Homo sapiens: one gene and its partners. The gene in region 3 interacts genetically with the main gene of each other region. Each region holds a gene or a part of one and is shown on either strand. Other genes may lie near its edges.

Evidence for each region.
Region 1: changes in NUP54 (region 3) and GOLT1B together harm fitness more than expected from each alone (negative genetic interaction), as found in Homo sapiens cells (one large-scale study listed by BioGRID).
Region 2: changes in NUP54 (region 3) and TIMELESS together harm fitness more than expected from each alone (negative genetic interaction), as found in Homo sapiens cells (one large-scale study listed by BioGRID).
Region 4: changes in NUP54 (region 3) and NDUFB2 together harm fitness more than expected from each alone (negative genetic interaction), as found in Homo sapiens cells (one large-scale study listed by BioGRID).
Region 5: changes in NUP54 (region 3) and GNL3L together harm fitness more than expected from each alone (negative genetic interaction), as found in Homo sapiens cells (one large-scale study listed by BioGRID).
Region 6: changes in NUP54 (region 3) and NFYC together harm fitness more than expected from each alone (negative genetic interaction), as found in Homo sapiens cells (one large-scale study listed by BioGRID).
Region 7: changes in NUP54 (region 3) and RNGTT together harm fitness more than expected from each alone (negative genetic interaction), as found in Homo sapiens cells (one large-scale study listed by BioGRID).

What each region holds. Positions count from the first base shown.
Region 1 is NC_000012.12:21,508,289-21,511,788, forward strand, and holds part of GOLT1B (vesicle transport protein GOT1B), read left to right. Parts: intron 1-94; coding exon 95-273; intron 274-3,500. UniProt on the Homo sapiens protein: May be involved in fusion of ER-derived transport vesicles with the Golgi complex.
Region 2 is NC_000012.12:56,421,927-56,425,426, reverse strand, and holds part of TIMELESS (protein timeless homolog), read left to right. Parts: intron 1-274; coding exon 275-412; intron 413-513; coding exon 514-665; intron 666-1,532; coding exon 1,533-1,630; intron 1,631-1,719; coding exon 1,720-1,843; intron 1,844-1,951; coding exon 1,952-2,153; intron 2,154-2,434; coding exon 2,435-2,580; intron 2,581-3,235; coding exon 3,236-3,321; intron 3,322-3,410; coding exon 3,411-3,500. UniProt on the Homo sapiens protein: Plays an important role in the control of DNA replication, maintenance of replication fork stability, maintenance of genome stability throughout normal DNA replication, DNA repair and in the regulation of the circadian clock.
Region 3 is NC_000004.12:76,131,398-76,134,897, reverse strand, and holds part of NUP54 (nucleoporin p54), read left to right. Parts: intron 1-535; coding exon 536-723; intron 724-2,178; coding exon 2,179-2,375; intron 2,376-3,500. UniProt on the Homo sapiens protein: Component of the nuclear pore complex, a complex required for the trafficking across the nuclear membrane.
Region 4 is NC_000007.14:140,703,208-140,706,707, forward strand, and holds the end of NDUFB2 (NADH dehydrogenase [ubiquinone] 1 beta subcomplex subunit 2, mitochondrial precursor), read left to right. Parts: intron 1-1,652; coding exon 1,653-1,727; 3' UTR 1,728-1,756; intron 1,757-3,355; 3' UTR 3,356-3,436; downstream 3,437-3,500. UniProt on the Homo sapiens protein: Accessory subunit of the mitochondrial membrane respiratory chain NADH dehydrogenase (Complex I), that is believed not to be involved in catalysis. Complex I functions in the transfer of electrons from NADH to the respiratory chain.
Region 5 is NC_000023.11:54,561,219-54,564,503, forward strand, and holds part of GNL3L (guanine nucleotide-binding protein-like 3-like protein), read left to right. Parts: 3' UTR 1-3,285.
Region 6 is NC_000001.11:40,694,704-40,698,203, forward strand, and holds part of NFYC (nuclear transcription factor Y subunit gamma), read left to right. Parts: intron 1-902; exon of another isoform or gene 903-1,042; intron 1,043-3,500. UniProt on the Homo sapiens protein: Component of the sequence-specific heterotrimeric transcription factor (NF-Y) which specifically recognizes a 5'-CCAAT-3' box motif found in the promoters of its target genes.
Region 7 is NC_000006.12:88,908,119-88,911,618, forward strand, and holds part of RNGTT (mRNA-capping enzyme), read right to left. Parts: intron 1-3,500.

The DNA of each region.
Region 1 (3,500 bases), on a different chromosome or scaffold from region 3:
GCTTCTTTTTTTATATTTAGCTTTGACTTTACGTTTAAAATTTATGCATTGTGTTTAATTACCTTTTCCGTGTTGTATTTTCTTTCTCTTTTAGGTTTTATTTGTAGCCGGCTTGGCTTTTGTAATTGGTTTAGAAAGAACATTCAGATTCTTCTTCCAAAAACATAAAATGAAAGCTACAGGTTTTTTTCTGGGTGGTGTATTTGTAGTCCTTATTGGTTGGCCTTTGATAGGCATGATCTTCGAAATTTATGGATTTTTTCTCTTGTTCAGGTAAGGCATATTATTGTCTCTTTCAGTAAATCAGTGTGTCAGATAGTTAGTACAAAAACTCAGATATTTGCATCAGTTGGAGTAAGATGATGATCATTTCCTTAAATGGAATTTTATTTAGGTTGAATCTTATAGATTTAGATGAAGCAACTATAAAAATGTTTTATCACATGTGAATGATTGCCTAATGGTATAAATTATCTTGTTTTGTCAGCACAATAAAGTTTATTTTATTGGCATTTTAAGGCACCATCTTTATGTTGGATATTTGTATCAACTAAATAGTGGTAGGTAGGTCGGTCGATCGATCAATCGGTAGGTAGGTAGGTAGATAGATAGATAGATAGATAGATAGATAGATCCAGCATTTTGGTGTGTAGAATCTTATACTTCATAGCTACTGCTACTTGATGGAAATTTATTTAGCACATATACGTATTAGAAGATTGTTTACCAAATACACTACTATGGGAGATTTTGAGCAGGTAATATTTTGTAAATGCCAGTTAGCAGATAAACAATAGTATGTGTATATATCTATATGAAAATACCTTTGGCCAGGTGCGGTGGCTCACACCTGTAATCCCAGCACTTTGGGAGGCCGAGGTGGGCGGATCACCTGAGGTCAGGAGGTCAAGACCAGCCTGGCCAGCATGATGAAACCCCGTCTCTACTAAAAATTCAAAAATTAGCTGGCCATGCTGGCAGGCGCCTGTAATCCTAGCTACTCGGGAGGCTGAGGCAGGCGAATTGTTTGAACCTGGGAGGCGGAAGTTGCAGTGAGCCGATCACACCATTGCACTCCAGCCTAGGCAATAGAGCGAGACTCTGTCTCAAAAAAAAAAAAAAAAAAAAAAAAAAAACAGAAAAGAAAATAACTTTAAGTAGGGTTGAGCTTAATTATTTATTCCAGAAATGCATATCCTTTGTCTTCTGTCTGCCAGGCACTGTATTACCCACAGGAGACATAAAAATAAATTAAGTACCAAATCTGCTTTAGAAAATCTCTCATTTCTATTATGGAAAGTAGACTCTAAAAATACCAATAGGATATAGTCATAATGCCATTATAAATGTGTATGCAGAATATTGTGGAAGCATGATTAAAAAATTAGTAAATTCAAGGAGAGGTGAGAAATGTTAACTGATAAACTGGGCTTTGAAGAATGGGTAAGAATTTATCCTATAAACGAGAAAGGGAACGACAGTTAACAGAAGGAACAGACAGGGCCATAAAAACACACAGCTTGTTCTGAAAAGAATGAATACTCTTATAGAACAGGAGCATGTGATCAGTTGAAGGAAATGGTTGGTAATGAAACTGAAAATGAAGCCTGGAGCCAGGTTACAAACTTTCTTTGATGACTTGTTGAGAAAAGTATACCTTATCCTGTAACCAAATTTGGGCTGGGGGAGCAGTGTTTGGAGAAGGTCGGGGGAGTGGGGCACAGAGGTTTTTAAGCCAGAGGTGGTACAACAGGGTAGATGTTTTAGGAAGGTTGTTCTGATATCAGGATAAAGTAGGTATTAAAGAGAAAAACTGAAGTCAGGGGAGCCAGTCAAGAGGCGGTTAATACAGTACAGAATATACAGTGATAAGACTGGAATCTTGGAGTACTTTTGACATTTTAGGGTAGGTGGAGAAAAAGAAGAAAACACTAGAAGAGACTAGGAAAAGAGGTGGGAGAAGAACTAGGAGTAAAGATCATAGTGGCTAAGAGAGAAAAGAGTGAAGAAGAGTTTGTTTTGGCAGATGTATCTTGCAGCAGAAAACTTAAGCACCTTAAGAAGTAAGAAAATCATTGGCTTTCCCAGTTATGTGGGGGTTTTAGTAATGAAGGTTAAAAGCCAAAGCTGATCTTTGAGATGAATAAAAAATGGGAAGTCTTAGTATCATCGACAAGCTTGGAGTAATACACAGGTTTCGTGGTTTAGAGAGCTTTGTGGTATAAATACTAGTTTTTGTTGTTGGGTTTTGTTGTGTTCTGAGATATTCTGAGCTGGAGATTTAGTGCCAAGGGTCTTTGATGTTGTTTTTCTAGATATTTATAACCCTAAATAATGGCATTTGAAATCACACATTTTTATGTTTTAAAACAATACTTAAAACAAAATAAATGATCTTTTGAATTCATTACTACTAGAAAATGATTGTGATTTTCTTTGAAACACGCACATACACCATCAACATAAATACTTGTCTAATTTAAAAATTCTGCTTTCTGTTTAATTCTTTATTTTGACTTCTGCAGATCCATAACAGAATCTTATTGCTTAACTTCTGAATTGTATTCATTGTAGTATTTTCATCCCTATCTAACTCTGTGAAGAAAACAGCTTTTTTTCTGTACTCGTCTTACCACAATCAACACAGAAGACTGCTGTGACCAAATGGGTGGGGGGTTTTCCCGATATCGCAATCAGTTAGTTGTCTGCAACAGACAACAGCTGGGTGTCCTCCCAATATAGTTCTGATACTGTCTACATGGAGATAGCTCCAGATCACACAGGTTGAGGGCTCAGTCCCACAACTGTCCTCCACTCCCAATGATGCCAGCCACAAGCCCCAGGTTGTTTTACCCATGCTTCTGACTGATCAGCTCTAAGTTGGGGTTCCCACGATCCCCTGTTTGGATCAGACTAATTTACTAGAGAGGCTCACAGAGCTCAAGGAAACACTGATGTTTACTAGTTTATTATAAAGGATATTACAAAGGATACAAATAAAGAGATGCATAGGGCAAGGAAAGGGGGGAGGGTCGCAGATCCCCCCCCACCCTCCCCAACCCACCATCCTCCAAGAACATCCTTGTGTTCAGCTATCCGGAAGCTCCCTGAACACTGTCCTTTTGGGTTTTTATGGAGGCTTCATTACTAGGCATGATTGATTAAATTATTGGCCATGAGTGACCAGCTTCACAGCCCCCCTCCCCTTCGTGGAGGTTAGGAGGTAGGGCTCAGATTTCCAGCCCTCTAATCTTGCCTTGGTCTTTCTGGTGACCAGCCCCCATCCTGAAGCTGCCTAGGGGCTGCCAACCATTGATGATAACTCATTAGTATACAAAAAGACATCACCTTGTAGAGACTCTTAAGTATTTTAGGAGTTGTAAGCCAGAAAATGAGGTCAAAGACCAAATATATATTTCACAGTATCACTACATATTTTAAGACCCAGGAAAAGTTTAGTTTCTTTGCATTTTTAAAATAAACTATTTCATTCTCTTCCT
Region 2 (3,500 bases), on a different chromosome or scaffold from region 3:
GGAGTTTTGCCATGACATCTTATGCTCACTCACATTATAGCTTTTATCCACACTCTAGTGTAATTACCTTTCTACTTCCTGTCTCCACCACTAGAGTAAAAGCTCCTCAAAGGGAAGGAAATATGCTGTTCACTATTGCTTTCTATTACCGATGGATAGCAGATAATGGGCACTCTGTGAATGTCCAGTTAATTAGTTTTGTAATAGAAAAGACACTGATGGGGAAAGCCCTCTTTAGCTCTCTTGACATCCTAATACAATTCTTTCCCCACAGAACAAACAAAAGAAGAGAAGGAAGAAGAAGAAGAAGGTCCTAGACCAGGCCATTGTTTCTGGTAATGTCCCATCTAGCCCAGAAGAAGTGGAGGCTGTGTGGCCAGCCCTGGCTGAGCAGCTACAGTGCTGTGCCCAGGTAGGTGGTTACAGAAACCCTGTCTTTTTTGAGAATAGTGCTCAGGGTATACAATCTGGGTTTTCCACTCCCTCCGCTCCCATAGCTTTATCCATCTCTAGAATTCTGAGCTCAGCATGGACTCCGTGGTTCCCTTTGATGCGGCCTCAGAGGTGCCAGTGGAGGAGCAGCGGGCAGAAGCTATGGTACGGATCCAAGACTGTCTCCTGGCTGGCCAGGCCCCACAGGCCCTGACTCTCCTGAGGTCTGCTCGGTAAGAACCCTGCCTGCTCATCCTCTTGGGCTTTGGGGGAAGGAGGAGGCCATCACTGCGGTACAGTGTTCTCAGTCTTCAAAAGAGAGTTGTCTCATCAAGGCTCTGGGACTGTATACCAACTGACTCCTGGGGCGTTTTGATTGGTTTGTTGGGTTTTTTTGTTTCTGAAAAACATTAAAAAAGCATAGTTAATTGAGAAAAAAATAAAGAAAGCAAATCCTCACTTGACATCATCAATAAGTCCTTGGTAATTGCAGCTTTGAGTAAAATGACCTACGGCATGTTTCTTATAACGTTAAGAGAAAAAAAACTGGTTTTGTTATACATTGTTTCACTTAAAGTGGCAGTATCCAAGAACCTATTGAAGACATTAAGGGCGGACTTAACTTTAATTCTAGTAGCCAAAGATATGCATCATTAACATTTTGATGAGTAACCATCCAGAGGTTTTTTTGCTCCGTTACATGTAAAAATATCGTATATACCTTGTTTTACAAAAATGAAATACTGTACATGCTGATTTATAGTAATTTTTCACTTCTCAGTATATTATGAGCATGATTTCTCATCAGATATATTTCTGTAATTGTTAATGGCTTTAAAACACCATTGTGTGAATATGTACATTTGTTCAACCAGGTGTCAAACATTTAGATTGTTTGCATTTTGTTCTTAGCTGGTTTTTATTGAATTGTGGCTTATGAGGAAAATTTTCCCTGGAGTCTTTGTTTCATTTGAGGTAACAGTTTGCATTCTGTTTCTGGCCAACAAAAGAAATAAGTCTAAATTCCTTCTTCTACTTCGAATTATAAATTTAAAGCCAGATTTCCCCTGGGTAAAGCCTTTTTTCTATCTGTGCTCCAGGGAGGTGTGGCCTGAAGGAGATGTGTTTGGCTCTCAAGACATTTCTCCAGAGGAAGAGATCCAGTTGCTGAAACAAATCCTCTCTGCTCCACTTCCCCGTGAGTCTCCACCCTTCACATCTGTCTCCTTCCAGCTCTTTTCTAGCACCAACATAACAGAGACTCAGTAATCCTCCCTCTGTCTATAGGGCAGCAGGGCCCAGAGGAACGTGGGGCAGAGGAAGAAGAAGAGGAGGAGGAGGAGGAAGAGGAGGAGTTGCAAGTGGTCCAGGTGTCGGAGAAAGAATTTAATTTTCTGGACTACCTGAAACGGTGCGGGCTGAGAGGCCTGAGTTGGTCCTAGAGTGGCGATTGTGCGGCTGTGAGGATGAGCTATGTCTTCCTTATGCTGACATCCTCTCCCTCCTTGTTTTGGTGCAGCTTTGCATGTTCAACTGTCGTTCGAGCCTATGTGCTGCTACTAAGGAGCTACCAGCAGAATAGTGCCCACACTAACCATTGCATTGTGAAGATGCTGCACCGGCTGGCCCATGACCTCAAAATGGAAGCCCTACTTTTTCAGCTGTCAGTCTTCTGCCTCTTCAATCGTCTGCTTAGTGACCCTGCTGCTGGAGCCTACAAAGTGAGGGGATAACAAGGAATGGGGTTCTGGAAGGGTATGGGAACCCTCAGGTAAATAAATAATCTTCAGGAGATAGAAGGTGCTGAGAGGTGTCAAGGGCTGGGAGATGGGAAAACAATGAGAAAGTAGACAGGCAGGTTGAGGGAGCTGCATGGAGAAGGACAGAAGAGAGTGAGTGAGGAGGGGGCAGCTGGGAACAGCTATAGAGAAAATACCTAGAGGGCCAGGTTCGGGTCTGCATTGGACCAGAGAGGCCTCATAGTAACCTCCTTCTCCTACAGGAGCTAGTGACTTTTGCCAAATACATCCTGGGCAAATTTTTTGCACTGGCTGCAGTCAACCAAAAAGCCTTTGTGGAGCTGTTGTTCTGGAAGAACACAGCTGTGGTTCGAGAGATGACTGAGGGCTATGGCTCCCTGGATGACAGGTGAGCTTGAAGTTGGCAAAGGGTGGGTGGGGGTAGGGGAAGTTTGATGCAGAGTCACAGAATGTCAAAGCTGTTAAGAGCTTGCATGTCATTTAGCCCACTGTTTCTTTCCCTATTATGGGTGAGAGAACAGGCTCAGGAGGTGAAATGCTTTACCTAAAGTTATCCAAGAGAGGAGCAGGGACTGGAGCCTAAGTCTAGTGTGTATCTAGTTTCCTTCTCCATCACCAGCCTCCATAGAGGTAGTCACTGTTGGGAGCTGGGTGGTTGCCCAGAGGGAGTCTGTGTGCGACCTCTCCCAAAATGTGCTGGGAAACCATGAGGATTTGTAGAAATGTTTGTCCTCTTTCCCTTAGTATCTCAGCCCCTCTCCTTTCACACTTAGTCTCTTTTTCCCATAATATTCTCAGTCCCTAGAGTCAGAATGGTCAGGGTTCCATTGGCCCAACCTGGAAAATCTCTTAGTTTGACTTTTAGGTTCTTACGTGGAAGGAAAGTGAGGGGAAGGAGGCACACTGTAGGCCTCTGCTGGCTGGCCTCTTTCAGTTACCTGCCTTGTCCTTCCTGTTCTTTTCAGAACTGATCAGAGAAGGCCTTTGGTCTCCTCTTTTTGGGCCAAGAACCTATATGCTCCCTTTCTCCTTTCACCATTCAGGTCTTCCAGTCGCAGAGCACCTACATGGAGCCCCGAAGAAGAGGCTCATCTTCGGGAGCTGTACCTCGCCAATAAGGACGTGGAAGGTGAGAGGCCTTGGGATCTGGAGAGTTTATGAGGAGGGCAGCTTGAGCTGTGGGACCTTCTTTACTGCCTTAGTCCTTCCCCACGCCAGGGCAGGATGTGGTGGAAGCCATCTTGGCCCACCTGAATACTGTTCCTCGAACACGCAAGCAGATCATCCACCATCTGGTACAGATGGGAC
Region 3 (3,500 bases):
GTACAATTGGGCAGAATAATCTAACATCAAGTCCATCTTATAATAATAATAATTTTATAATAAAAACTAAAAGATCAGAATTCCATGTATGGTTTACATGTATGTATATATGAATGCGTATTGCTTTCACACCCTATAAAATGGAAAAATCATAAGTTGAGAATCTGTATAGTGAAATAAATTATAATTAGTTGGTGATTTTTGCAGTCACTTTTATAATGACATGCAGATGGTTCAGAAACAACCAACAATAATGAATATCAAAATTTTTTAGGGGAGAAAGCTGTTTAGTTACTCTCTCAAAGAGGAAATGTTAATCTTACTCTATAGGTTAATGTTATTCCTGGGTAAAATAGTTTTTCTTTATAATTTTGTGACCTCCTAGGGCACAAAATGGTGGGAAGAATCATTATTCCCTTAATTACCAGACATTAAGTTGTTTTTCCCATTTTAGCAGATATTAAGCTATTAATATTAAACACCTGATTTAAGATCTGTACATATTTTTTATATTGTTTATTTTGTCATTCCACAGGCAGTAGGTTATAGTTGCATGCCCAGTAATAAAGATGAAGATGGGCTAGTGGTTTTAGTTTTCAACAAAAAAGAAACAGAGATTCGAAGCCAACAACAACAGTTGGTAGAATCATTGCATAAAGTTTTGGGAGGAAACCAGACCCTTACTGTAAATGTAGAGGGCACTAAAACATTGCCAGATGATCAGTAAGTATACATAAATATACTGTTTATTTCTGTGTATTTATTTCTGGTCCTAAGGGAGTGATCAATAATGTTTTTGTTGCTAAAGCACAAATTAACTCTCAGAGCAGAATGCCTTTTCTCAGCTAGTGATTATTCAGTATTGATAAAAACATTTATTTAAAAGTTTTTTTAAAATTTTGGATTTTTTAACTTACTAGATGCTAATAATTTTCTAGATTTTCATTCAGGCCAGGAAGGGACCATTTGTCATAGATGCGTGCAAATTGAGGGCCATAAAGATGTTATTGGAAAATGTTATTAACTCATTACTGTTCATGTTCATTCATGAATAAATATTATTGCTTTACTTCCCTTGACCTAAGTATAATTCTCAGTGTTAGTGGCAAGACATTTATTTTAGGATATTTGGAGGAATGATTATTAATGAGATGCAATAATTGAACAGATTTTACTTGTGGTTGTAATTGCAGAGAAGCAGCCCATAAATTTCAACAGAATTTCCTATAGTAAATAACATTTACATAGGATTTTGCAACTAAGCAAACCCTTTTATAAATATTATCTTATTGGCCGGGCACGGTGGCTCACGCCTGTAATCCCAGCACTTTGGGAGGCCGAGACGGGCGGATCATGAGGTCAGGAGATCGAGGCCATCCTGGCTGACACGGTGAAACCCTGTCTCTACTAAAAATACAAAAAAAATCAGCCGGGCGTGGTGGCAGGTGCCTGTAGTCCCAGCTACGAGGGAGGCTGAGGCAGGAGAGTGGCATGAACCCAGGAGGCGGAGCTTGCAGTGAGCCAAGATTGAGCCACTGAACTCCAGCCTGAGGGACAGAGAGAGACTCCGTCTCAAAAAAAAAAACAAATACTATCTTATTTACCTGGTTCTTTTTAACTTTATCATTTAGGTTGATTTGTAAATGAACATTACATGAAGTAAAACTTTCTTATTTTCCAAGATTTAAGAAGAAAACAGTTGGGCACAGCAGCTCATCATACCTGTAATCCCAGAACTTTGGGAGGTCAAGGTGGGAGGATTGCTTGAGACCAGGAGTTTGAGACTAGCCTAGGCAACATAGCGAGTGTCCGTCTCTCAAAAAAATTTAAAAATATATATATATATATATCATATATATTTATGTATAGACACACATACATGTAAGCTAAACGTAGCGGGTGTGCAGCTGTACTCTCAGTTACTTGGAGGCTGAGGTGGGAGAATTGCTTAAGCCTGGGACATTGAGGCTGCAGTGATGATACCACTGCACTCCAGCCTGGGCAACAGAGCAAACCTTGCTCAAAAAAAAAAAAAAAGGAAACATTTTAATTGCCTCCTAAAACAACCATTTCTGAATTCAACTTAAACCCTTCTGAAATCACATGCTATGATATGCTGAGGTTTGTCGCTATGAGTTTTGTGCTCCATATTTTATAAATTGGTTATTCTTCCTTCAGGACAGAAGTTGTTATTTATGTTGTTGAGCGTTCGCCAAATGGTACTTCAAGAAGAGTTCCAGCTACAACGCTATATGCCCATTTTGAACAAGCCAATATAAAAACACAATTGCAGCAACTTGGTGTAACCCTTTCTATGACTAGAACAGAACTTTCTCCTGCACAGATCAAACAGCTTTTACAGAATCCTCCTGCTGGTATGTTTCTAGAATCACAGAGTTCAAAAAAAAAGAAAGATTTAGAACTAAACACTCCCCGTATTTCAGAGGTGTTGGTTGGTTATTAATGCTAATAAAATTAGTATCATCTTGTCATATATCTACTTATTTGGGAAATAGTTTTGAATATTTGTATTCATTTAGTTTTTTATTATATAGCTAATATGTATATGTTAAAATAGAAATTTTGAGAAATAGTGAACTGAAGAAAAATAGTCCATAATCCATCTACCCAAAGGTAATTTACTAGTAAAATTTTGGCTTATTTTTTTCTAGCTTATCTCATTTTAACTGAATATTCAAGTAAAACCTGAATGTATTCTAACTGTAAAATATTCTGGATGGCATAACTAGATTGACTATGTGATAGATTACCTTTAGTTCCTTTCCCCGGAAGTAACTACTGTCAATTTATGGTACTATGTTTAATCCTTTATCTGTGATTTGAAATGTAAGCATATTTACATGTAGATCTTTTAAAAAAGGATTCTCCATATACACCTTCAGCTTGCCTTTTTACAGTATTCCTTAGCACTTTTCATGTCAATACATGAAGATAAATCTTACTGTATTTAAACATTGCATAGTATTCCATGGATACACCTTTACTTAACACCTCTAAGTTGTTTTCTTTTTACTATTATAAACTGTACAGTAATTAACAATATCCTTGTAAACATGTCTTAGAACACATTGGTATATATTTCTTTAGAATAGATCTCTGGTAATGAAATTTTTGAGTCAATATTATGTATGTTAGATATTGCCAAATTGCCCTCCAGGGAAAGTTCTACCGTTTATATTCATAACAGGAATGTTATTTTTTCTGGCCACTGATGGCAAAATAATTAATTTAAAAATTAATACTTATTTTTAATATGTTTATTAGCTACATTTATATTTTTTGTGAGTTACCTATTTGTGTCCTTTGCCCATTTTCTAGATTTTTTTGTCTTCCTTTTTGATGTATAGGAACTCTTTCTATATTCTGGAGGTTAATCTATTATCCTATAGGTTATAGATAGTTCCTTTCAATCTGTGCTTTTTTTGAACTTTATTTATTCTGCAAAAATTTGTATTTTTACCATGATTATATTTGACAGT
Region 4 (3,500 bases), on a different chromosome or scaffold from region 3:
TATATTTAGGTGGTCCGTTTCTTATGGTTTCTGTTAGGTTGCCATCTTAGGGAGACTAAAAGCTCATTTTTTTTTTTTTTTTTTTTGAGACACAGTTTCACTCTGTCACCAGGCAGGAGTGCAGTGGCACAATCTCGGCTCGCTGCAACCTCTGCATCCCGGGTTCAAGTGACTCTGGTGCCTCAGTCCCTTGAGTAGCTGGGACTACAGGTGTGCACCCCCACGCCGGCTAATTTTTTTTGTTGTTAGTAGAGACGGGGTTTCACCATGTTGGTCAGGCTGCTCTCAAACTCCTGACCTCAAGTGATCCACCTGACTCAGCCTCCCAGAGTGCTGGGATCACAGGCGTGAGCCACCGCGCCTGGCCAGAAATGAATTCTTTTACCTTCTGAACTAGCGGTTCATTGGTAGGTTAGGTTTCACACTTAAATTCCTTTAAATGATGAATGTCTTCTGGTCTGTCCAGAGGCCCAGGGCAGCCAGGTTTGGGTGGGATGGATGTGAGTTAATTTGTCTTGAGAAGGGAAGTTAGTTTTAGTGATTTTCTATTTTATTTATTTATTTTTGAGATGGAGTCTCACTCTGTCACCCAGGCTGGAGTGCAGTGGTGCGATCTTGGCTCACTGCAAGCTCCGCCTCCTGGGTTCACGCCATTCTCTTGCCTCAGCCTCCCAAGTAGCTGGGACTGCAGGTGCCCGCCACCACTCCCGGCTAATTTTTTATATTTTTAGTAGAGACGGGGTTTCACCGTGTTAGCCAGGATGGTCTCGATCTCCTGACCTCATGATCCACCTGCCTTGGCCTCCCAAAGTGCTGGGATTACAGGCGTGAGCCACTGCGCCCGGCCAGTTTTAGTGATTTTCTAACATATCATTAGCCTCAACTGAGGTTTTACCACATTTGCAGACCGTTCTTTGGGAAATTACGTCTTTAAGACATTGAAATCTGTGCTTGTTTATCCAGGATACTTTGAGTTGTAGTAAATTTGGGTTTGTTTCCAGGATAGGAAAAAAATCTTAAGCAGTATGTAAGTTTTAGAAGCATCAGGTTGCTTCATATCCCATTTCTCTTAGAACTTCTCTGTGCCGTTGTCCTTCAGTAAGGAGCTGCCTGGGTGTCTGTGAACTGTCCACACATTTACTATTTGAGGTGCCCCTGCCTCACTGTAGGTCAGCTGTCCGGAGTATGTACAGTATGTATAGCTGTTAGGCCTGAGATGATGATGATGCAGCCAGATAAGCCCTTAGATCAGGATTGGAGATGAGGAAGTCCACCTGAGGCTTCTCCATTTCACAGCAGTAATGTTAGGAGAGTTGGAAACATATTTTGCCAGGACTTTGCCAGGATGTCAGGAACCTTTGAAACCTATTGCCTCCACTTCCCCCTACCCTCCCTCTATCACAGACACGTACCATTGGCTTAGGCTGGTACCTCCAAATGGGGAGGCTTTTAAAATTCAGACCAGAGCCCATATAATGAACAAACTAAAGAACAGGTGGGCCATCGAATAATTAAAGTAGAATTTGTTCCTGTGGTCAGGGGCTGAGCCATATTGTTTTTTTTTTTTTCTTTCCAAGATTTATTTAACAATTTAATTAGTTGCACAGAATGTAAATTCTTGACTTTTCTTTCTTTTAAATGGTTGTCACCAGGGTCACTTTCCGTATCCTGATCCTTCCCAGTGGACAGATGAAGAATTAGGTATCCCTCCTGATGATGAAGACTGAAGGTGTAGACTCAGCCTCACTCTGTACAAGTGGGTGTGCTCCAAATTTCTTTATGTCATATTTACCTTTTTTCATAAACATTAGTTTTTACTTTGTGCCTATGATGGACTTGAAAAAACTGCATATTCTAACAGCATGAAGTTGAGTTAACCATGTCCTGTATCTGCTTTTTTTTTTTTTTTTGAGACAGAGTCTTGCTCTGTCGCCCAGACTGGAGTGCAGTGGCGTGATCTGGGCTCACTGCAACCTCTGCCTTCCAGGTTCAAGTGATTCTCCTTCCTCAGCCTCCTGAGTAGCTGGGATTATAGGCACATGCTACCACACTTGGCTAATTTTTGTATTTTTAGTAGAGGCAGAGTTTTGCCACGTTGGCCAGGCTGGTCTCGAACTTCTGACCTCAAGTGATCTGCCCACCTCAGACTCCCAAAGTGCTAGGATTACAGGTGTGAGCCACCACGCCTGGCCATGTATCTGATTTCTGCCTTAAGTTTTCACATTTGCTTTGGTCTCTTCTTCCTTTTCATTGTATGTTTTATTTTATTTACATTTTTTATTTTGTAGAGACAGGGTGTCACTATGTTGCCCAGGCTGGTCTTGAACTCCTGGGCTCAAATGATTCTCCTGCCTCTGCCTCCCAAAGTGCTGGGATTACAGGCATGTGCCACCACACCTGGCCCATTGTATAATAAAAAAAAATTTTTTTCCTAAGTTAGGTTATAATTTTAGGGTTTCATTTATCCATCCACTGATCAAAGATATATTAAGACCAATTCTGTGCCAAGCACAGGCCTACAGTGGTGAACAGGACAGATGGAGCTTACAGTACGTAGCTGCAAAACTACAGTGTCCTGCTCTCAACATTTAAATAGATCCAGCATATGGGAGTATTACTATATAGAACTATATGAAAACTAACTCTTTAAACAGTAAAGGGTTATGGCTTTTTCATTTTCCAGGTCAGGAAGTCAAGAATTTTTCTTCTTTAAAAAGGGAGGTACTAAGAAGGTTCCCTTTCCTCATAAACCCCTAGGGGTTAATATGTTTTTATTTAACATGCTTTTATTTTATATTTTATTTTATTTTATTTTATTTTAGTTTGTTATGTTATGTTATGTTATGTTATGTTTTATGTTATGTTATGTTATGTTATGTTATGTTATGTTATGTTATGTTATTTGAGACAGGGTCTCATTCTGTCATCCAGACTGGAGTGCAGCGTGATCATGGCTCACTGTAACCCCAACCTCCTGAGCTCAAGTGATTCTCCCGCCTCAGCCTTCTCAGTAGCTGGGACTACTACTCTTGGCTAATTTTTGTATATTTTGTAGAGATGAGGTTTTGCCATGTTGCCCAGGCTGATCTCAAATTCTTGGACTCAAGTGATCCACCTCTTGGCTTCCCAAAGTGTTGGGATTACAGGTGTGAGCCAGTGTACCTGGCCAACAAATTTGTTTTAATGACTGGACTGTAAACCCTTGAGAGAGGAAGGGTGATTTTGCTTCTCTTGTCTACAAGGCTGTCACATGATCAGTGCTCAATAAATACTTGAATAATTGAATAAATGAATTATGGATTTGAATTAGTGAATATAAAAGTACTTAAAGCTTTCTACTTTTGTTTTCCTGCAGGAGCCAGGTGAGAATTTCAAGGATTATCGACTTCATATTGCACATTAAAGTTACAAATTAAAGTGGCTTGGTCAAGAATGAGAATGGAGTTGTGGATCTTTTTTTTGGGGGGGGGTGGGGTGGTGGAGAGGTGGTGGGAGGGGGG
Region 5 (3,285 bases), on a different chromosome or scaffold from region 3:
ACTCTGCCTACAAAACTCTCTTAGACAGGTGAATATGCCACTAGAAGTTAGGTTGCTGGTAGACCTGGGGGTCCCTGCGGGAGGGTGATGGTTTCTTTACCACCCCACAGGAGATTTCAGTGGCAAGGCATGCCTGCAGTGGGCTTTGGGCCATGCATCTTCCAAGTCCATAGGTCTTCACCTGGGTGGCAGTGAGAAAAAGTAGAAAGTAATGAGCCTCCTGTGTCTCTGGAAGGTTCTAGGGATAGGGTAGAGGGAAGAAGAGAACAAACAAGCCTGGCTTGTGCTGAAGTGTGGTAGGCACTACCCTGTTTGCGTGAAGAGAAAACAAAGCACCTGTTAGTAGGGAGGCTTTAGGGGGAAGCCCCGTCTTGGGGGCATTTCTGGGCAGATTGTGAATTGGAGGAATCTCTTTAACTGAAGTACTCTGGCTGGACCCTGCCCTTGTGTGACCATGTCTCCTATTGCACCAGCATTTGAATTCCATGGCTCAAGAGGGTTCTGGTACCATTTATTCACAGACTGTATCCTCGAGAGAGCTGCTATATATGGGAGTGTACCAGCCAACTCCTTTTCCAGTGTCTGTAAGTCACCTCATTAAAGTATAATTAGCTGTCTCCTCTGGGAGATCCTACCCCATCAGACAAGGGCAGTGAGCCCAAGCAGTGCCAGAGGCCCTCAGAAAGGGATTAGGGTAGATGATTGCAACTGAAACACAATCTTCTTTCTTTGCCAGGGTATTTTGGGGGTTTTGCCCCAAAATATACCCTGGGCATAGCATTACTGCAGTCTTGGATGTCTACCCCAAACTTCCACACCATCCTTCGACCCACAGCTGCACCTTTATTTATTTATTTTGCTCTGTTGCCCAGGCTGGAGTGCAATGGCGTGATCTCGGCTCACTGCAACCTCTGCCTCCCGGGTTCAAGTGATCCTCCTGCCTTAGCCTCCCAAGTAGCTGGGATTACAGGCACCTGCCACCACGCCTGGCTAGTTTTTGTATTTTTAGTAGAGACGATGTTTCACCATGTTGACCAGGCTGGTCTCGAACTCTTGACCTCAAGTGATCCACTCGCTTCGGCCTCCCAAAGTGCTGGGATTATAGGCGTGAGCCACTGTGCCCAGCCTCACAGCTGCATCTTAACCTTACCTTTGCCTCTGCCTCTCAAGCTGGTACCTCCTAATTTACATCCTAAGAGTGGAACCATGTGACAAGGACTGGAGTGCCATTGGCTGTGGACTGTTCAGGCAGGGAAGTACAAGACCACTCTTGTATTCAGGGGCAACCAAAGGAGAGAATTACGTACTTGTTGAGTACAAACTGCACCAAGCCCTGGAGACCCATTACCACCGTTAACCCTCAATACAGCTCTGCTAGTAAGGGATTCGTCTCCCCAAATGAAAAAAAAAAGTAATCTCAGAATGTTGGCCGAGCATGGTGGCTCACACCTGTAATCCCAGTTATGCAGGAGGCTGAGGCAGGAGAATCACTTGATCTCAGGAGGCGGAGGTTGCAGTGAGTCGACATCACACCACTGCACTCCAGCCTGGGGGACAGAGTGAGACTTCGTCTCGGAAAAAAAAAAAAAAAGTTGACAGGATGGCCAGACCCAAGTGGGCGTATTAAGTGGTGGTGCTAGGATTGGAACCCAAGCGTGATTAAAACCCTATGCAGGCCCTTTCCTCTATATTGTACTGCCTCCTTAACAAAGGAAGATTGATTAAGCCCCTACTTTGTGCCAGTCTCTGTTATCAAGTCCGTTAAATGCATTTAACGTTAAATTTTTTCTTTTTTGGTTTAAAAAACTCTAGTTTCTTAAACTACTAGTTTTTAGTGTCTTGCTAAAACTATGTGCTCTTGAATAGGCTACAACTTATTTCACACTATCTCATTGAACTCTCCTGGTATGTGATAGTGTTATAATGAAAAATTGCATACCAGGACAGCTAAGTCTATTTTGCAACCATACAGCGTTTCATAATTTAGCATTTAAAATACAGACAGTCCCCGACTTTTGGTGGTTTGATGTGGGATTTTTGGTGGAAAAGCAGTATACATTCAGAATGCACCTCTACTTATGATGGGGCTACTTCCTGGTAAACCCATTGTAATGTGCAAATTACGGGTTTATCAGGAGGTGACCCCATCGGTAATGGAGAAGTGCTGGGAGGTAAATATTAGAAATGGAAGTATCTAAATGAGTAAGAAACAGCATGGGAGCATAATTTGGCCAAAATCAAACAGAACTAAAGTAGTCATGTCGGTAAGAATTTGGGACTGCAGGCCAGTTACGATAGCTCTCACCTGTAATCCCAGCATTTTGGGAGGCCGAGGCAGGCGGATCACTTGAGGTCAGGAGTTCAAGACCAGCCTAAACAATATGGCGAAACCTCATCTCTACCAAAAAAATACAAAGATTAGCTGGGCATGGTGTCTCATGCCTGTAGTCCCAGCTACCTATGGGGCTGAGGCAGGAGGATCTCTTGAGCCCAGGAGGTCGATGCTGCATTGAGCCGAGATTGTGCCACTGCTCTCCAGCGTGGGCAACAGAGTGAGACTGTCTCAGGGGGAAAAAAAAAGAGGAAAACAAAAAAGACGTTGGGAGTGCAGTTTCTCTACCTACAGCATATCTCAAAGGTTTTTTTTAAAAAAGTATTTTCTTAACTTTTTACCTTCATTTTTCAAAACAATTAGGGTACAATTTACATATAGTAAAGTTCACTCTTTATAGTTTTAGTTATGTGAGTTTGTACAAACATATACAGGAGTGAACCACTACCACAATCGAAATATAGTTGCATCACCCCCCTAAAACTCTCCAGGCCCTTTTGTAGTCAACTCCTACCCCCGACCCTCAGATTCTGCTAACCACTGATTTGTTTTCTGCCCCTATAGTTTTGCTTTAGTATGACTGTCATATCAATAGAATCATACAATGAGTAGGCTTATTTTATGCCTTCAGGTTTTAAAAATTATAAACATTTACATTACAGTAAAATTCACTCTGGTATACAGTTCTATAAAGCTCTGATAAATGTGTAGAGTTGTGTAACCACCAATGCAACCAAGGTACAGAACAGTCCTCTTAGCCTCTCCCTACCAAATTTATTCCTGCTACTTTGTAGTCAAAACCAGTCCCCTACACCCAAACCCTGGCAGTCACTGGTTTTTTTCTTCGTTCTCTTTTTTTTTTTTTTTTTTTTGAGACAGAGTCTAGCTCTGTTGTCCAGGCTGGAGTGGTGCAGTGGCGTGATCTCGGTTCACTGCAACCTCCGCCTCCAGGG
Region 6 (3,500 bases), on a different chromosome or scaffold from region 3:
ACCTTCATTCCATGTTAGCCCCTTATACCCATGGCCACCTTGTTAAGATCTGGAATTGACCACTCTAGAAATCTTGAACTCTCAGGAAATCTCAGTAGATCTGAGTTTATGTTGAAAACTTGTGAACCTCAGCTTTTTCTTCAGGCAGAAATCATACTAAGATTTATACTTTATAGGCTGTGTTCATGGCATCTTATTTAATTCTTATGACAAATCTGTTATCTCATTTATACTTACACATTTTTTTCTTTGGTCAGAACTACTAGAGACTGGGCGCAGTGGCTCACGCCTCTAATCCCAGCGTTTTGGGAGGCTGAGGCAGGTGGTATTTGAAGTCAGGAGTTTGAGACCAGCCTCGCACACATGATGAAACAAAATTACAAAAATTAGCCTGGCATGGTGGTGGGCGCCTGTAATCCCAGCTACTCGGAAGACTGAGGCAGGAGAATTGCTGGAACCCGGGAGGTAGAGGTTGCAGTGAGCTGAGATTGTGTCACTGCCCTCCAGTCTGGGCAACACAGCGAGACTCAGTCTCCCAAAAAATAAATAAAAATCCCAAAACTGTACTAGAGAAGATTTTACAAGGCATTTTTATCCCCTTTTATTTTCAGAGAAATGAAGGCAAAGCGAAATGAGGATTCATACCACAGAATTGTAAACATATATGGGCTAAACCCATTCTGTGCTATGGAGCTATGCTGGGAGTCTTGTTTTGGGTTTTGTTTTGTTTTGTTTTTTGAGAGTTTTACTCTGTCACTCAGGCTGGAGTTGCAGTGGTGTGATCTTGGCTTACTGCAACCTCTGTCTCCCGGGTTCAAGCGATTCTCCTGCCTCAGCCTCCCGAGTAGCTGGGATTACAGGTGTGCACCACAACACCCAGCTAATTTTTGTATTTTTAGTAGACACGGGCTTCCACCATGTTAGCCAGGCTGGTCTTCAACTCCTGACCTCAGGTGATCCACCCACCTCGGCCTCCCAAAGTGCTGGGATTATAGGCGTGAGCCACCGTGCCCAGCCAGGCTATGCTGGGTGTCTTTTTGAGGTAATTTTGAAATTTATATCTTTTAGTTCAAAAGTACTGAGCCACTAGGATCTGTGAATCAAACACAGGGATAATATAGTTACTACTTTTATTGAGTGCTTGCTTACATTGTACCAGCTGGGATATAAATGTATTATGTATATTTATTCTCATACACTATGAGGTAGATAATATAGCCACCCTCATTTTTACGTGTGAGGAAACTGAAAAGTAATTTGCTTAAGTTCTCACAGCCAGTAAGTAGCAGAGCCCAGATTCAGACACGGATTTGTAATTCTGTTTTTTTTTTTTTTTTGAGATAGAGTCTCGCACTGTTTCCCCAGACTGGAGTGCAATGGCGCGATCTTGGCTCACTGCAACCTCTGCCTCCCAGGTTCAAGCGATTCTCTTGCCTCAGCCTCCTGAGTAGCTGGGATTATAGACGCCCGCCACCATGCCTGGCTAATTTTTTGTATTTTTAGTAGAGACGGGGTTTCACTGTGTTGGCCAGGCTGGTCTCAAACTCCTGACCTCGTGATCCGCCCTCTTCGGCCTCCTGAAGTGGTGGGATTACAGGTGTTAGCCACAGTGCTCAGCCACAGATTTGTAATTCTTAATTCTTATGTAAATGAAGCCCTTACTCTTAAACACTGTGTTGACACCATAGAATGTTATGGGAAAAGAAAAAAAGTCCTGGCTTCTTAGCTCAGGAAGCGAACTTCAGTTCTTTCAGGCGTGTCCTTTGTACTGAGGCTCCAAAAGAGTGAGATGACCTTGACAGGGTCACTTGGCTATGCAAGGGCAGAGCCAAATCTTGCCCAGATCACTGGATTTCCAGATAGGTGCTCATTCCACTGGATAGCATTGCCTCTCCTGTGGACGCATTGACTTGATGGCAGAGATGACTTTAAGTGACAGGTTTACTTCATTCACCGGAATGAGAATGGCAGAGGACATTACTAGGGTCACAAATGACCTTCTTAAGGTCAATCCTGGCCTCAGGCATACAACCAGGAAGAATATTCCTTTGCCAGTAAGTTGTTCTTTTCCATTCTGTTTCTTGTTCTCAGAGGAAACTGGTTGTGAGTTATCTGATGTCTTACAGTCTTTCTTTTCATTTTGTTTATTCAGTTTTTCATGCATGCACTGTCACAGTTTAGGAAGGCTACAAGGTCATTTTAGTGTTTTCCTGCAGAGACTCAAAGCACTCAATATAATGTAAGTAGATTAATTGCAGGAGGAAATGGATTTTTAAAACTTTGGCCAAAAAGTGCCTATGGGAGAGGACAGTATTAGTTGCTGATTGGAGTCAGACCAAGGGAAGAGTTCTGTCTCTGCAGTGCATTTACCCTCTGTGCTGGAGCAGGTTCTTAACTTGTTTCTTCTTCTGTAAAATAACGACAATAATACCTACCTGTAGGGTAATTATGAGAAATGAATATAATAGCGTGTGGTAGATGCCTATCACTTAGTGGACCTTAATAAGTGGGAGAACACATTTTCATTTTGGAACAGCATGAAATCTGTCCTTTCAGCCCGTTACAGCTTCCTTGATGAGGAGGGGTGAGGCCTTTTGTAATTGTCTGCTCTGCAATATACAGTAAGATTTCCAAATGGGAGAGCAACCACTTGACATGAAGTAACCTAATTTAGTTGTGCTGTTGTGGTTTAGGAGCTGATTTTCAGTGGACCAGTGTGAGGTCAGTCTTACTTTTGAATGCACAAAGTAGTAGGATCATTTGTTTCAGGGAAAGATTGTTTCCTGATCTCTTTTGTTCATCCCCAAGTGTTGAGTGGTAATGATTGCGATGCGATGAAAACTTCTTCATATTTGACAAATAGCAATGATGATTAAATTCGGAACAACTGGTGTTTTCATTCTGACCAGAAGGAGAGATTTCCATTATAGTCATTTAAAATTTTTCTAACTGTACAAATTATCAGTTGAAGTAGGACCGTTGGTTTGGTTTGTGTGATTTGTAGTCACTTGAGTAACGTTTTCTTTGAAGTAAGCAGTTAGACAGTATTGTGGAATGGTTCAGGAAAAATCTCTCTGCCTGCAGAAAATTTTGCTAGGTTGCAGGAATTGTTGCACCCTTCCCACACTTCTCCATGTGTTAGCAGTGATGTACCTGATAGCAGTGAGACAGCACCTGTACTCATTTTCAGTATTGGAGTTGTATTTTCCATTTTGTTATTTTCAGATCTCCAGATAGATTACTTCTACATCCAGTACTTCATGAGAGCTTTCTATTGTATAAACTTGTAGTTTAAAGAGTGGAACTAGAGTCTAATCTTTGCATTTGAATGTTTCCAGTAGAATACGTTTAAAATAAAGGTTGAAATATCCATGTCTGGTCAGGCACAGTGGCTCACGCCTGTAATCCCAGCACTTTGGGAGGACGAGGCTGGCAGATCACCTGAAGTCAAGAGTTTGTGACCAGCCTGGCCAATATGGTGAAACTCCGTTTCTACTAAA
Region 7 (3,500 bases), on a different chromosome or scaffold from region 3:
AGAAATAAACTAGCTAGATTTACAAAACTTCTAGAAGAAAATACAGGAGTAAATCTTTGCAAGCTTAGAGTAGAAAAAGTTTCTTAGATAAAACACAAAAAGCATAAAATGAAGAAAAATACTGATAAATTAGACTATTTCAAAATAGCAAGGGTTTGCTCTTTGAAAGACATCATTAAGAATATAAAAAAGAGTTCTAGGCAAGACGGCCAACTACCTACAGCTGAAAAACGCCTCTTCCATGAAAAGGAACCAAAATATCAAGTAAGCCACCACACTTTGAACCACCAAAACTTGACAATACAAAATCCTGCAACTTTGAACAGATCTTTTGAGAGAAAACACTGAAAGCCAATAGAGAGGCAAAGCAGACACAGTGTTTGAAGAGGGAAGAAGCGACGTAGACTGCTTGGAGTAACTAGGCACCAGGACTGGCCCCCAGTTCCAGTGTGGACCTAAGGGAGGGCTGAGTAAAGGAACCCTGGGGCACCACACTCCCACCATGGTCCTCTGGGATCCTAGCTACAAGATTCTAGCCATGAGCCCCACAGACCACGGTGCAGCTGCAGCAAAACACCACCATAGGGCCCATCCTCCAAGGCTCTCCAGCTTGTACTGAGTGGCTGCAGGTCCTGCTATCTGCAGGGCGAAGAGAGTAAGACTGCCACTGCCATAGGACCATAGTGTATCTGATCCACATGCCCCTTTGCCTGCCAACTCTTCAAAGACTGCCTGCCTGGCTGCTCCTGCAAGACAGTGCCCACAGAACAGCCTCCACTTCCCTGCCTGAGTGTTCTGCTGGCAGCCTGCTGGCTGATCCTAAGGGGCCAGAGGACAAATGTGCAGGCCTGGTCCCACTTCCCCAGGACTCAAGCACACTGCCCAGGGGTATTGAGTTAAGCTCTGTGGCCTGAGCTTGGGCAGGAAAGGAGCCTTCACTCTCAGAATACAGAGAAGAGTGTGGCATGGAAACTAAGCAACCTCTCTTCAGAAGACCAGTCCAGGATGGGTGTGGCCTGACAGCCAGCCAAGGTTTCTTCCCCAGGAAGCTCCGTGGCTTGGAGCATCTGAAATGGCTCAACGAACTGGGCACGCAGGGCTTTTGAGACAAGCCTGGCCAGTCTGGTTGCGCCTGCTCCTGAGACAGACATCAGACAGAGACCAACCAGGTCAGGGGAGTGCAAGTTGTGAGGGCCACACAGCCATCGGCTGGGCTGCAAACCCGGGCCATGGTCACTATACTGGCTACACACACATACGGTGCCACTTCCCTGCCTGAGGATCTACCACCCTTGCTTGACCCACTGCATTACCAGACCACCTGCAGACATACCCCACAACCCACTCTTACTGACAAGCACAGGGGACTGGTAGGTCCCTAAGGAGTTTCAGGTCTCCTGGTGGCCTAACCCTTGGCTTGAATCATATCTAAGCGAGCAGGAAGAGAAGCCCACCAAAGCCCCACACAGAGCAAAGGAAACGTGAGACAGTGCCAGTAGCTGAGGGGGATACCACCAAGGCTTAAGAACAGACTATGAGAGAAAGTCATCTCTTACCCTGCGTCCTCTCTCCAGAGCACTGCTGAGGACACAATGAAATACAAAGGGAGCATGCGCAGCTGTGTAAGAGCCTATCTGCCCTTATATTTAAGCACCAACTGCAGCTTGAATTACACAGCAAAACAAAATACACTGCTTCAACATGCAAAGCCTGTGAAACCCTCATAGAAACCTATCTACAACCAAGGAACTCATACAGAGCCTTGGCCCTCTGAAAGCACCCAGAAATGAAGCCAACTGACTATACACAACATTTACCACCATCAAACTCTCAAGGGAAAAAAGAATATTTAAAAAAAAAAAACCCATTCAATCAACAGCAAATTCAAAAACAAAAAGAAGGACCAGTTCCCTCAGATGAGAAGTAATCAGTGCAAGAACTCTGGCAATTCAAAAAGTTAGAGTGTTTTGTTATTTCCAAAGGATTGCATATACTCCCTAGCAATGGATCCCAACCAGAACGTAATGTCTGAAATTATAGACACAGAATTCAGAATATGGATGGCAAGGAAGCTCAACAAGACCCAAGAGAAGGTTGAAATCCAATCCAAGGAAGTCAGAAAAACAATCCAAGATTTGGAATATAACATAGCTATACTAAGGAAGAACCAATCTGAAATTCAATTCACCACAGGAATTTCAAAATACAATTAAAAATCTTAACAACCGGCCTTATAAGAGATGCTTAACAACAGACTAAACCAAGCAGAGGAAAGAATCTCAGAGCTTGAAGACCAATCCTTTGAAGCAACTGAGTCAGACAAAAATAAAGAAAAAGAATCTTCAACAAATGAACAAAGCCTCTGAGAAATAATAGGATTACATAAAGTGACCAAACCTACAACCCACGATATTCCTAAGAAGAAAGAGTAAGCACCATGAAAGACATATTTGAGAATATAATCCACAAAAATGTCTCCAAAGTTGCTAGACAGGTCAACATGCTAATATAAGAAACTCAGAAAACCCCTGTACGGTACTATACAAAACGACCATCATCAAGGCAGAGTCATCAGACTTTCCAAGGTCTATGTAAAAGAAAAAATCTTAAAGACAACTAGAAAAAGAGTCATATCACCTATAAAGGGAACCTCATCAGGCTAACAGCAGACTTCTCAGTAGAAATCTTATAAGCCAGAAGAGACTGGAGGCCTATATTTAGCATCCTAGGAGAAATTCCAGCCAAGAATTCCATATCCCACCAAATTAAGCTTCATAAGCGAAGGAGAAATAAAATCTTTGCAGGATTAGCAATTGCTAAGGGAATCTGTTACCACTAGACTGGCCTTACAAGAGATGCTTATGGGAGTTCTAAACATGGAAACAAAAACAGTATCTGCTACCACAAAAATACACGTAAGTACACAGCCCACAGACCCTATAAAACAACTACACAATCAAGGCTACAAAGCAACCAGCCAACAGCACCACCGCAGGAAAAAAATCTCACGTATCATTAACCTTGAATGTAAACAGTCTAAACACTCCACTTAAAAGACACAGGGTGGCAAGTTGAATTTAAAAATGAAAAAAATAAAAAAAGACCCATCCTTCTGCTATCTTCAGGAAACTAACTCATACCCCCAGCCTCAAAGTAAAGGGATGGAGAAAGATCTATCATGCAAATGAAAAACAAAAAAGAGCAGGGGTTGCTATTCTTGTTTCAGATAAATAAACTTTAAACCAACAGCAATAAAAAAGGACAAAGAGGATCATTACGTGATAAAAAGTTCAATTCAACAAGAAGACTTAACTATCCTAAATGTATATACACCCAATATTGTAGCACGCAGATTCATAAAACAAGAACTTCCAGATGGGTACTAAAGCAAGTCTCAATAAATTTTTTTTTAATCTTAATCATGCCAAGTATGTGCTTGGACCACAGTGAAATAAAAATAGAAATCAATACCAAGATAAACACTCAAAACCACACAATTA